Linked DNA regions of Homo sapiens: region 2 is reported to be linked to region 1. The links are microRNA targets in miRTarBase. Many come from high-throughput screens and were not tested one by one. Region 1 holds a microRNA gene; the other region holds the end of a gene's coding sequence.

Region 1 (4,690 bases):
TATTCCCAGCTACGCAGGAGGCTGAGGCAGGAGAATCACTTGAACCCAGGAGGCGGAAGTTGCAGTGAGCTGAGATCATGCCACTGCACTCCAGCCTGAGCAACAGAGCAAGACTCCGTCTCAAAAATAAATAAATAAAAAATTGGCTTCTCCGATACTCCTCCTGTCAAGAATGATTCCTCTGGGTTCCCTGACCTTTTGTTCTAATCATAGCTGCTGCTCAGCGCTCTGGATCCCTAAGTGCGAGCAGAAACCATGTGTTACTCATTGCTGCACCCCTGCCCTAATCTGCATGTGTTCCATGTTAAGTAGCTGCTGAATTGCAGGGGTCGGAATTGAGGTCTTTGCTTAATGCAAGCATCTGTCTTATTTCCTGCCCTGTAGATCGCCACATCACAGAATCGTATCTATCTCACAGCTGACAACCTTGTGCTGAACCTACAGGATGAAAGTTTCACCAGGTGAGAGATGTGGCCACACTGTGGGGTATCACCAAGAACGTGGGACCTGAGTCTGGTTGTTTGGGCTCTGGAGCCTGCTACAGCTATTCATATGGCTCAGAGACATTGAACCAAAATTAGAAAAGGGGGTGGTTGACAGTTTCTATCTTGCATCTCATAGGATTGATTTTATGAGATCAAATAGGATTATTCACATAAAAAGCACTTTAATTATAAAGTTTTCATCTAACCAAAAAGTGATGAAAGATGATACTCAGTTTTCTTACTCAAGAGCCCTCAAACTCCTCTGGTGAATGGAGGGATGTTAGGAAAGGAGATGAGAAATAGCAGTGGCCATGAGAACATGCCTCCTCCTTTCATGAGCCTGAGATTCCTGGCTGTCAACCCTGTTTATCTTTTCTCTTGGGAGCAAAGGAGGGTTCAAAGCTGAGTGGGGCCTGAAGCTGTCAATTAACATGTGCATTTCTCTTCTCTGTTTCTTGTTCATCTGGCGATCTGGCACCACAGGGGAAGGTAAGCTGTTGTTGCTTCTGTGGGGTCCTGCAGGCCACCTTCTCCAGTACCCGCCTCCTACCCTACCCCCTTTCCCACCTCCCCGAAGACAAACCCTCAATCAGGGTAGGAGGGTCGTAGAGGGAATGGCCTAGAGTGTCCTGCCTCTCACATTTATGTCCCCTAATAATGTCATTATCTATCTTTTTTTTCCTACAGTGACAGCCTCATCAAGGGTAAGAAATGAGCCTAGTCACCAAGAACTCCACCCCCAGAGGAAGTGGATCTGCTTCTCCAGTTTTTGAGGAGCCAGCCAGGGGTCCAGCACAGCCCTACCCCGCCCCAGTATCATGCGATGGTCCCCCACACCGGTTCCCTGAACCCCTCTTGGATTAAGGAAGACTGAAGACTAGCCCCTTTTCTGGGGAATTACTTTCCTCCTCCCTGTGTTAACTGGGGCTGTTGGGGACAGTGCGTGATTTCTCAGTGATTTCCTACAGTGTTGTTCCCTCCCTCAAGGCTGGGAGGAGATAAACACCAACCCAGGAATTCTCAATAAATTTTTATTACTTAACCTGAAGTCAAGGCTTCACGTGTTCATGAACTGGGTAACTGGCAGCAAGCATGCGCACGTTCACATGTGCGCTCCTGGGTCTGTCTTTGTGTGTGCCAGCAGGGGGCGCAAAAGAATCTGGCTGGGGCGGCTAAGGGGAAGCAAGGCCTGGGCTCCGAAACAGGACCCAAGCTGGGAAGGCTGGCCCTGAGTTCTCGAGGCCCAGCTGTGCTCTTCACACACCCTCCATTTCTCCCACATCACCCATTTTTTTAAGGCTGGACAGCCATGGCTTTGCTGAGCCAGATTAAAAATCTGATGACCCCAACAGGAGCTGCTTCCTTGGCAGCAGGGTTCCTTGTGGCTGTGGGGAGCCTGCCTGTGCCTGTTGAGGCACTTCTGTGCCCAGAAGCCCAGTGGATCGCGTGGCCTGCTGTAGGCCCCCCAGACTCCATTTCTCAGTCACCAGGCGTGAGGAGCTGCTAGCTAACAGGCCTCCCCTGGGGAGGTGGGCTTTTCATGCCCGCAGTTCCGGGGCCAACAGAACAGGTGCCTGTCTGTTCAGTCCACAGATAAGCTGACACTTATCTTCCCAAGACAGGCCTTCCCGAATCTCAGGCACCAGAGAAACAGAGCCACCGTTTATACCTGAATCTCCCACTACTGCCCATTTCCCATCCCTGCGGGGAGACAAGGAAGATGTGGAACTCAGACAAAACATAGGTGCAAAGTATGTCCAGGAACTGCCAAATGCAGATAGGGCAGCAGGTGGATCTGAACAGAGGGACTGGGTTAATCTGCTTCGATTTTTAAGATATTTTTCTCTGCTTGGGGTTGAGTATCATGAAAGACAAAGCAGACGTCGCAGCCCCAATCCTGAGTTGCTGGGAGGCTAAGATGAGATAAACAACTAGACAAAAGACAGGTCAAGTGACTTGGATCAGTCTTCCTCATGTTCCCCTTCACACTTTATTTATTTCATGCTCCCAAGGCGGGAAGACAATGGAGGTGCCTAGGGAACCAGTGTTTCCACATCTTGCTGCAGCTGTAAAGGCAGCCATTTTGTCTCCTTCCCATTGTTCCCCTTTGCCTAGTGATTCGTCCCCCATCCAGAGGGGTGAAGGTCAGAGGTTGTTGGTCAGTAGTCCTCCATGGTCTTCAGGGCTCCCTGAAGGTTACTGCCGAGAGAACCCACCCGGGAGCCATCTTTACCAGACAGTGTTAGGAGCTTCACAATTAGACCATCCAACACTGTACTGGAAGATGGACCCAGGGCCGGCCGACAGAGAACTACGGTGCGCGCTCACCAGTTGCTACAGGGGACCCTGGCCACAGGCCAGGTGAGGTCTCTTGAGAGGGGGCGAGCCAACCCCAAGCTCAAGGTCGACTGTGGGTTCTGGATCCACCAGGTGACAAATCGCACTGGGTGGGAGGAGGGGCTGGGGCCCATTGTGTCCCTTAGTGGCAGCCAGCCAACAAGAACCACCCCTTGTGCAACGCTCTCAGCTCAAGACGAGGGGCTTCCGGGGTGCGTGGGAAGTGGGGAGGGGGCTGCAGCCAGCTAAGGGCTGGGGACCTGAGGCGATGGATGTTGCTGACACAGGGACAGGGGCCTCCATCATTACCCGGCAGTATTAGAGACTCCCAACCGCACCCAAACACTGCTGGGTAAGACGAGGGCCCCCGCCCAGCCCGCCCACCTTGGGTCAGGCAGCTTCAGGCCCAGGATCCCTGCGGAAAAGCTGCAGATCCCTGGCTCCCATCCCCCCACCACCCGAGTCCCTGGGGACACTTCCTGGTGAGCCCTGCTGCCCGCCACCAGCCACACCCTGGGTCGCTGATCACGAGGCCCAGGTTGCAGTCCAAGCAGGCCCTCCGAAGCCCCTCGACCGTCGGCCCGCCGCCTCTGAGCCACCTTCCCCTACCCCCGGCAGCCTTTCCCGACCCGCGACACACACCGATTTACCCACCCTCATCCCCCCTCTGCAGTCCCAAGCTCAGCCCAGGACCTCTCCCCTGGTGGCCTTTACCTGTCACCGGGCCCACCTGCCCCCAGAGAGTGGGTGCTGGGGAGACGAAGGGGCTTTAAGGCCCCAGATTCCACGGCCTAGAGCCCGCCCTGGCCTCCGCTCTTCCTCCTTCCTTCTCCGCCTGCCGGGCAGCCAGCGCAGGCTCCTTACCTGGGCCCCGCCTGCCACCCTGCGCACAGGTGTGTCCTCCTGCCATAGGCTGCCCCCCCACTGCCTTAACCCCTTCCCTCCCAGCGCCAGCCACGGGCACCTCCTCTAAGGCTTGGCCACTCCTCTAGGCCTCCCACCCTCTCCCAGGGGCCTCTTTTCTCCAACCTGCCTAGTCTCACCCCTGTCTCCAGAGGTACAAAAAGCGGGGGCTGTCCTTGGGTCCCCTCCCCACAGCAGATGCTGCCCCCAGGACTAGCCCATTCCTCTGTGGCCTCAGACCCTGCCCACAGCGGAGCTGCAGGCCAGAGAGATCCCTGAGGTCAGCGAGGGGTCAGCTGGGCAGGAGTTGGGCTGTGCCGCCCCGCAGTGCCCAGCCTGTGCTGGGATCCCCTGAGGGAAAGGGGAGGGAGAAGGCCCCGCCAGGCCTGTGAAGGGCAGGCGGGTCCCAGCAAGGTGTCGCTAGTGTGAAGTTACCCACCGCTACCCAGAGACCCCAGCTGGCCCGGAGCATCAGCCTTGCCCCTCGATTGAGGCCTGCAGAGGGAACGATCGCGCTCCACTCTCCGGACCGAGCTGCTCCCGGACCCACCTCACAGCACAGCCCTCAGTGGAGTCCAAGTCCCACCCCAAGGGCAGGTAGCCCAAGGGCGGTTAGAGGAGGTGGGACTTGCCTTTGTGCAGCTGCGGCTTGTATAGAAAGGGCGTTGCTGGGAGAGGGGACCTGGGCCCGACAGGTGATTGCCCCACCCGTGCCCTGGAGGGCCACAGCCCCAGGGAGCTATTGGGTTGCTCAATCCCTCGCTGTTCTCTCTCCCAGGCTTTGTTTGCTTCCTTCTTAATACCCGCCTGCAATTATTTGATGCTTGTGATCGGTTTGTGAATCTGTCTCCCTGACCAGCCTCCTAAGTTCCAGGAGGTCGGGGGACTGTGAATGCCTGTGACGCCGGGGGCTCTGTAAGGATTTGCTGAGTAATGCACGCCCAGCCTCTGGGCTTTGGGACCTG
Region 2 (4,326 bases), not on the chromosome of region 1:
AAGTACTTGGGAGCCAGTGATGGATCACCCACCATGATGTTTATTCAGAACATTACTTGCTTGTTTTCACCTCTCACTTCTCATCCACAACATACGCCAGTTAGCTGACAGCCCTGGTCATAGGGATGAGGTAGTGGGTACCCGTGCAACCATCCCCGAGTTTCCACGATGAGAACATCAGCTTTCTAACCAAAATTATATTTTGTCTGTTTTTTCACCAAGGTGGATCCAACCGAAGAGAAAGGGGTGCTCCACCACTCCCTCCCATCCCGAGGTGATCTTTGCCTGCTCTTCTCTACCCAAGCTCAAGAGCTGCTTCTGTTGCTATCTAAGAACTGCATACCCTCCTCCCTGCTTCTTCCCTTGTGCCTCATGTATGGGCAGGAGGAAAGGTGGGAGGGGGAGTGGGAATATGCGTGTGTGGGTGGGAATCGGTAAGAAATGCACCTAGCTTTTCATATTGTGTTTATTCTCCAGGCTATTGCTTGCTTCAGCTGCAGCCTGCCTGTGCTGGCTGCTGGGGTCGATAGGCTTTTGTCGTAATAGGCAGAGATGACTTGCATCCCAGCTTTCCACCAACCAAATTCAAACATTCACTGCTTATTTGTTACAGACTGTAATTATTAAAGTCCCTGAGAGCTGTTTTCTCCCGTTCCTTTTTCGCATGCTTGGCCTCCTCTCTGTTTCTATGAACCACAGACCACCTAAGCAAGCTGCTGAGTAAGGGCTCACTGGAAACTTGCAGTCACAGGATGTCCAATCTTTGGCAGTCCGAGCTTGGCTCTAGGACAGAGCTGTCCAATAGAAATATAATGTGAGCCCCATATACAATTTTTACATTTCTAATATATTTTAAACAAGTGAAGTTAATATGCATCCAAAATATTTCAACCTGTAATCAACATAAAATTTTAATGAGATATTTTATATTATTTTTTGGTACTGAATCTTCAAAATCCAGAGTGTATTTTACACTTACCGCACATCTCCATTCAGACTAGTCACATTTTTAAGTGCTCAGTAGCCACATGTGGCTGGTGGCTACTGGATTAGACAGCACGAGTCTGGAAGATGGAAGCTAGTGCAGAAACCTCTTGTTTAAAAAACAAAAAAGGCAAGATGGGCTTGAGCGATTCAAGAGGCAACTAAAAATAAAATTAGGACCCAGCACCTTGTTTGACACACAGTTTGACCTTCGATTTTCCTCCCTTAACTTCCCTCTTCCCTTAATATCTGTATACAAGTGTTGCTTCAAAGTACCAAGGTCAGAAATTGATTGAGTACGGTTTACTAAAGTCATGTGGAATAAAGCCATTGGAAACAAATGGAAAGCCTGTCGGGACTTCTGGGCTCAGAACCAGCTGGCTCACGCACTCCACTTGTCAGCTGGACTTCTGCCTTGTGAAATGGAAGCAGCCTTTGTTCCTTTCTGGCTGAGCAAGCTCCTGAGGCTGGGAGAGACTAGGAAGGCTTGGTAGGAGGGGAAAAAAGTCAGGAAAATATATCAAATCAGAAACATGGAAGAAGAAGGGAACCGATTTGAGTTGGTGGGCAAAACTCTAAAAATCTAAATCTGATGCTTATGTAAGGGTTGAGCGAATTAGGGAGATTGCTAGTGGAAATTGGAGGGAATTTGTTTTGCATCATTTGTCTAGGATCTATGCAAATATAGCTCCACTAAAGGACCATAGGGAAGAGCCAGCCTTGCCTTTTCTTATATGATTTTGTTTACAAAATTTTACTGGGACTTTTAAATCTAGCTATAGAGTTGGGAAAAAATATTTCCACTTAGATATTTTACATGGTTTTGTTTAAAATTACCATTACTTGTTTTTTAAAAACACATGACCACATATGTATATGTATATCTACCTAAACATTGTATCATGGTTTCAGTATGTTATTCATGTATTACTGGGAGATGCTACCAAGAAACCAACCCAAAGAAAATTCTGAAAAATACATTTCTATTTATAGAATAAATGTTTCATTTATATAAAAGCAAAAGAACTTAGAGTTCTAATAAATGGGATGTCTAATAAATTATGAAGTTACTGATTTGAATATATTATATTTCTATAACTTCCTTGCCAAAGTCCTGATTTAGTACATTAGAGAACCTGTGTTTCCTCTCTCCTCTACCATTCATCTCTCTTCCATACAGTCATTTGGGCTTTTTACTCAAAGAGAATCAAGAAATAATAAGGTATAACAAGCTTGGCAAAGTGTTGGCTTTTTAAAAAAAAATTTTTTTAATCTCTAGCAGTTTGGTAATTTAGCAGCATCATTTATTTGGGATTCTTTTATCTGATTTCAACAGTGAAAAACATCCCTATGATAAAGCCTAATGACCCATTTCACAAAAGATGGAATTTGCCCTTCCTAGAAAATATGACGGAGAAAAGTCTGACTCAGAGAAAGTGGGTCTGAATTTTATAAGGGGTAGTAAGAATTGGACAATTCCTTTGCATATCTGAACTTGGCAGGTACCGTTCTAAATCTGAAACAGGGTGATAGCTCAAAGTTGCCATTCATCCAGAATAGATTGTTTTAGAATGTAGTGTTTAAGTGACTGTTTCATTAATACACCTACACCCTTTCTTTGAAAGTTTGCAACCTAATTGCATCTAAAACTATGAATAAGTTCTGTGGTAAAATCTTAAACTATGGAAAATTACAAAAATGAATTTTTCTTCCCTGAAATCAGAGCTTACATGTGTGTTTTTTTATAACATTTTCAGATAAATGTATTCAACATGTAATACAGTATTTTAACATTCACCTCTTATTTTATATTGAAATGTATTACAGTATTAAAACTCAGTGTTCAGTATTTATTTCACTATGCATTTTATTTAGTAAAAGCCAGGAGAAATGTTTAATCCAATGGTGCCTTACTTTGTGATTTAAAAGAAATCAACTTTTTTTTATGTCTAAGTAGTAGATTATTTGCATATTTGTAAAAACTGTTAGGTCTTTATATTTTAAAGTGTAATACCAGTTTTGTTATTTTAGTAGCAGAAATGGGATGATTGTTAAAGTTCCCCAAAAATGTTGGCATGAAATTAATTTTTCCCTCCTTATAGTCAAGGACCGTAGAGGAAGAAAAACTTTTTTTTCATACCATGCACTATGTAAACAGACACATTTTGCTATCTGTGTCATCAGGATAGTGTAAGTGGTAGGGTAGAGACTACCCTAGACATCTGCATCTTTGTAAGTTAGCCAGACAATAAAGAAAAGCAGAATGATATGGTGTCAACTGGTGGTTTTTCTTTTAAGTATTGTTTATGTAAATATAAACAAAAAAACAAGTGTCTGTTTTCGGTTTTAAACTGTGGAAAAGAAAGACAAACAAAAAAAGGTTTGTATAAGTAAGTAAATATTCATTGTACCTACTTGCTAATCCCATCTTCGTTTTTTCCGAGAATCTGCATCTTAGTCAAAATCTGTTTACTTGAGGCAGATGTTTGTACTAGGAGGTAAAGATGGATGGCTGAAGCAATGGAAGATGAAATTACAAAGACTGGCATGGATACTGATAAATACAGGAAAGGCCAATGGGAATTTAGGAGTCTGATAACTTTCTTAATTATCTGCTGTATGTATACATACAGATCTCAATATAGAAGAATGGCTAAGAGCTTAGGAAGACCTGGCTCCGTGTCTTACTTGCAAGTCACTTCACTAAACCTGTTTCCTTATCTATAAGGTGAGGAACTATCTTATAGCATTAATATATGCATTAAATGAGATAATGCACTCAGCATTTAGCCTTAGTGTAAGCACTCAATAAGGAGTAGCCACTATTAGTGTGAAGTAGGAAACAAATATTTATATAATGATCCCAAATTAACTGGAGCCAAATCCACTAGAAGGGGATCTACTAGTGTACTTTTAAAGGAAAGGAGCACTAGCTCCTAGATTGAAAAAATATCCATATCAGAAATGCAAAGCAACTTCTACATAAGGGTCACCTCACCTACCATCCTCCCTGTACCTCCAGGCCTGGAAAATGAAATTTTACCGTGCTTCAGTCATCAGAGAAGTATTATTAGGTTCAGTATGAAATAACAGAAATTAAGAGCCAGAACTTCGCAGATGGGGCAACCTTAGAATTTATGATCCACAATGGAACATTTTTGAGAGTGGAAGGGGTGCTAATAGTTGCAGTGGCAAAGCAGGTATAAGTCTGGGTTGCCTTGGAAAATGGGGCCGTGTGGTCACCCCACTCAGAGGTCATCCAGTCCAAACGTCTGGGCTTACAGATGGGCAATTTAAGGCCCTAAATGATGTGACTTCTCACTGTACTGTCCCATCTTCATA

The links. Region 1 holds the annotated microRNA hsa-miR-200c-3p (UAAUACUGCCGGGUAAUGAUGGA, at 3,121-3,143, opposite strand). A microRNA usually pairs through its seed, bases 2 to 8, with sites in the 3' UTR of a target mRNA and lowers its output. Matches are read on the target gene's strand: a 7mer-m8 pairs with bases 2 to 8, a 7mer-A1 pairs with bases 2 to 7 and ends in A, and an 8mer does both.
Region 2: the mRNA of WIPF1 is a reported target of hsa-miR-200c-3p. Seed matches in the 3' UTR shown: 7mer-m8 at 2,765-2,771, 8mer at 2,809-2,816 and 7mer-m8 at 2,829-2,835.

Annotation. Positions count from the first base shown.
Region 1 is chr12:6,962,195-6,966,884 of GRCh38, reverse strand. It overlaps MIR200C (microRNA 200c), which reads right to left and starts at 3,186; the gene lies at 3,119-3,186. It overlaps PHB2 (prohibitin 2), which reads left to right. Exons shown (of 10, transcript NM_001144831.2): 8 at 385-461; 9 at 969-974; 10 at 1,173-1,558. The coding sequence ends at 1,200. It overlaps MIR200CHG (MIR200C and MIR141 host gene), which reads right to left and starts at 3,640. Exons shown (of 2, transcript NR_135032.1): 1 at 3,537-3,640; 2 at 2,438-2,684. MIR141 (microRNA 141) reads right to left here and starts at 2,788; the gene lies at 2,694-2,788. It also overlaps LOC105369634. RefSeq lists enhancers at 1,894-1,943, 3,726-4,527, 4,528-4,690.
Region 2 is chr2:174,558,499-174,562,824 of GRCh38, reverse strand. It overlaps WIPF1 (WAS/WASL interacting protein family member 1), which reads left to right. Exons shown (of 8, transcript NM_001375834.1): 8 at 223-3,251. The coding sequence ends at 278. Among named protein-coding and RNA genes, the nearest start is that of WIPF1-AS1, 15 kb to the left of the region's middle.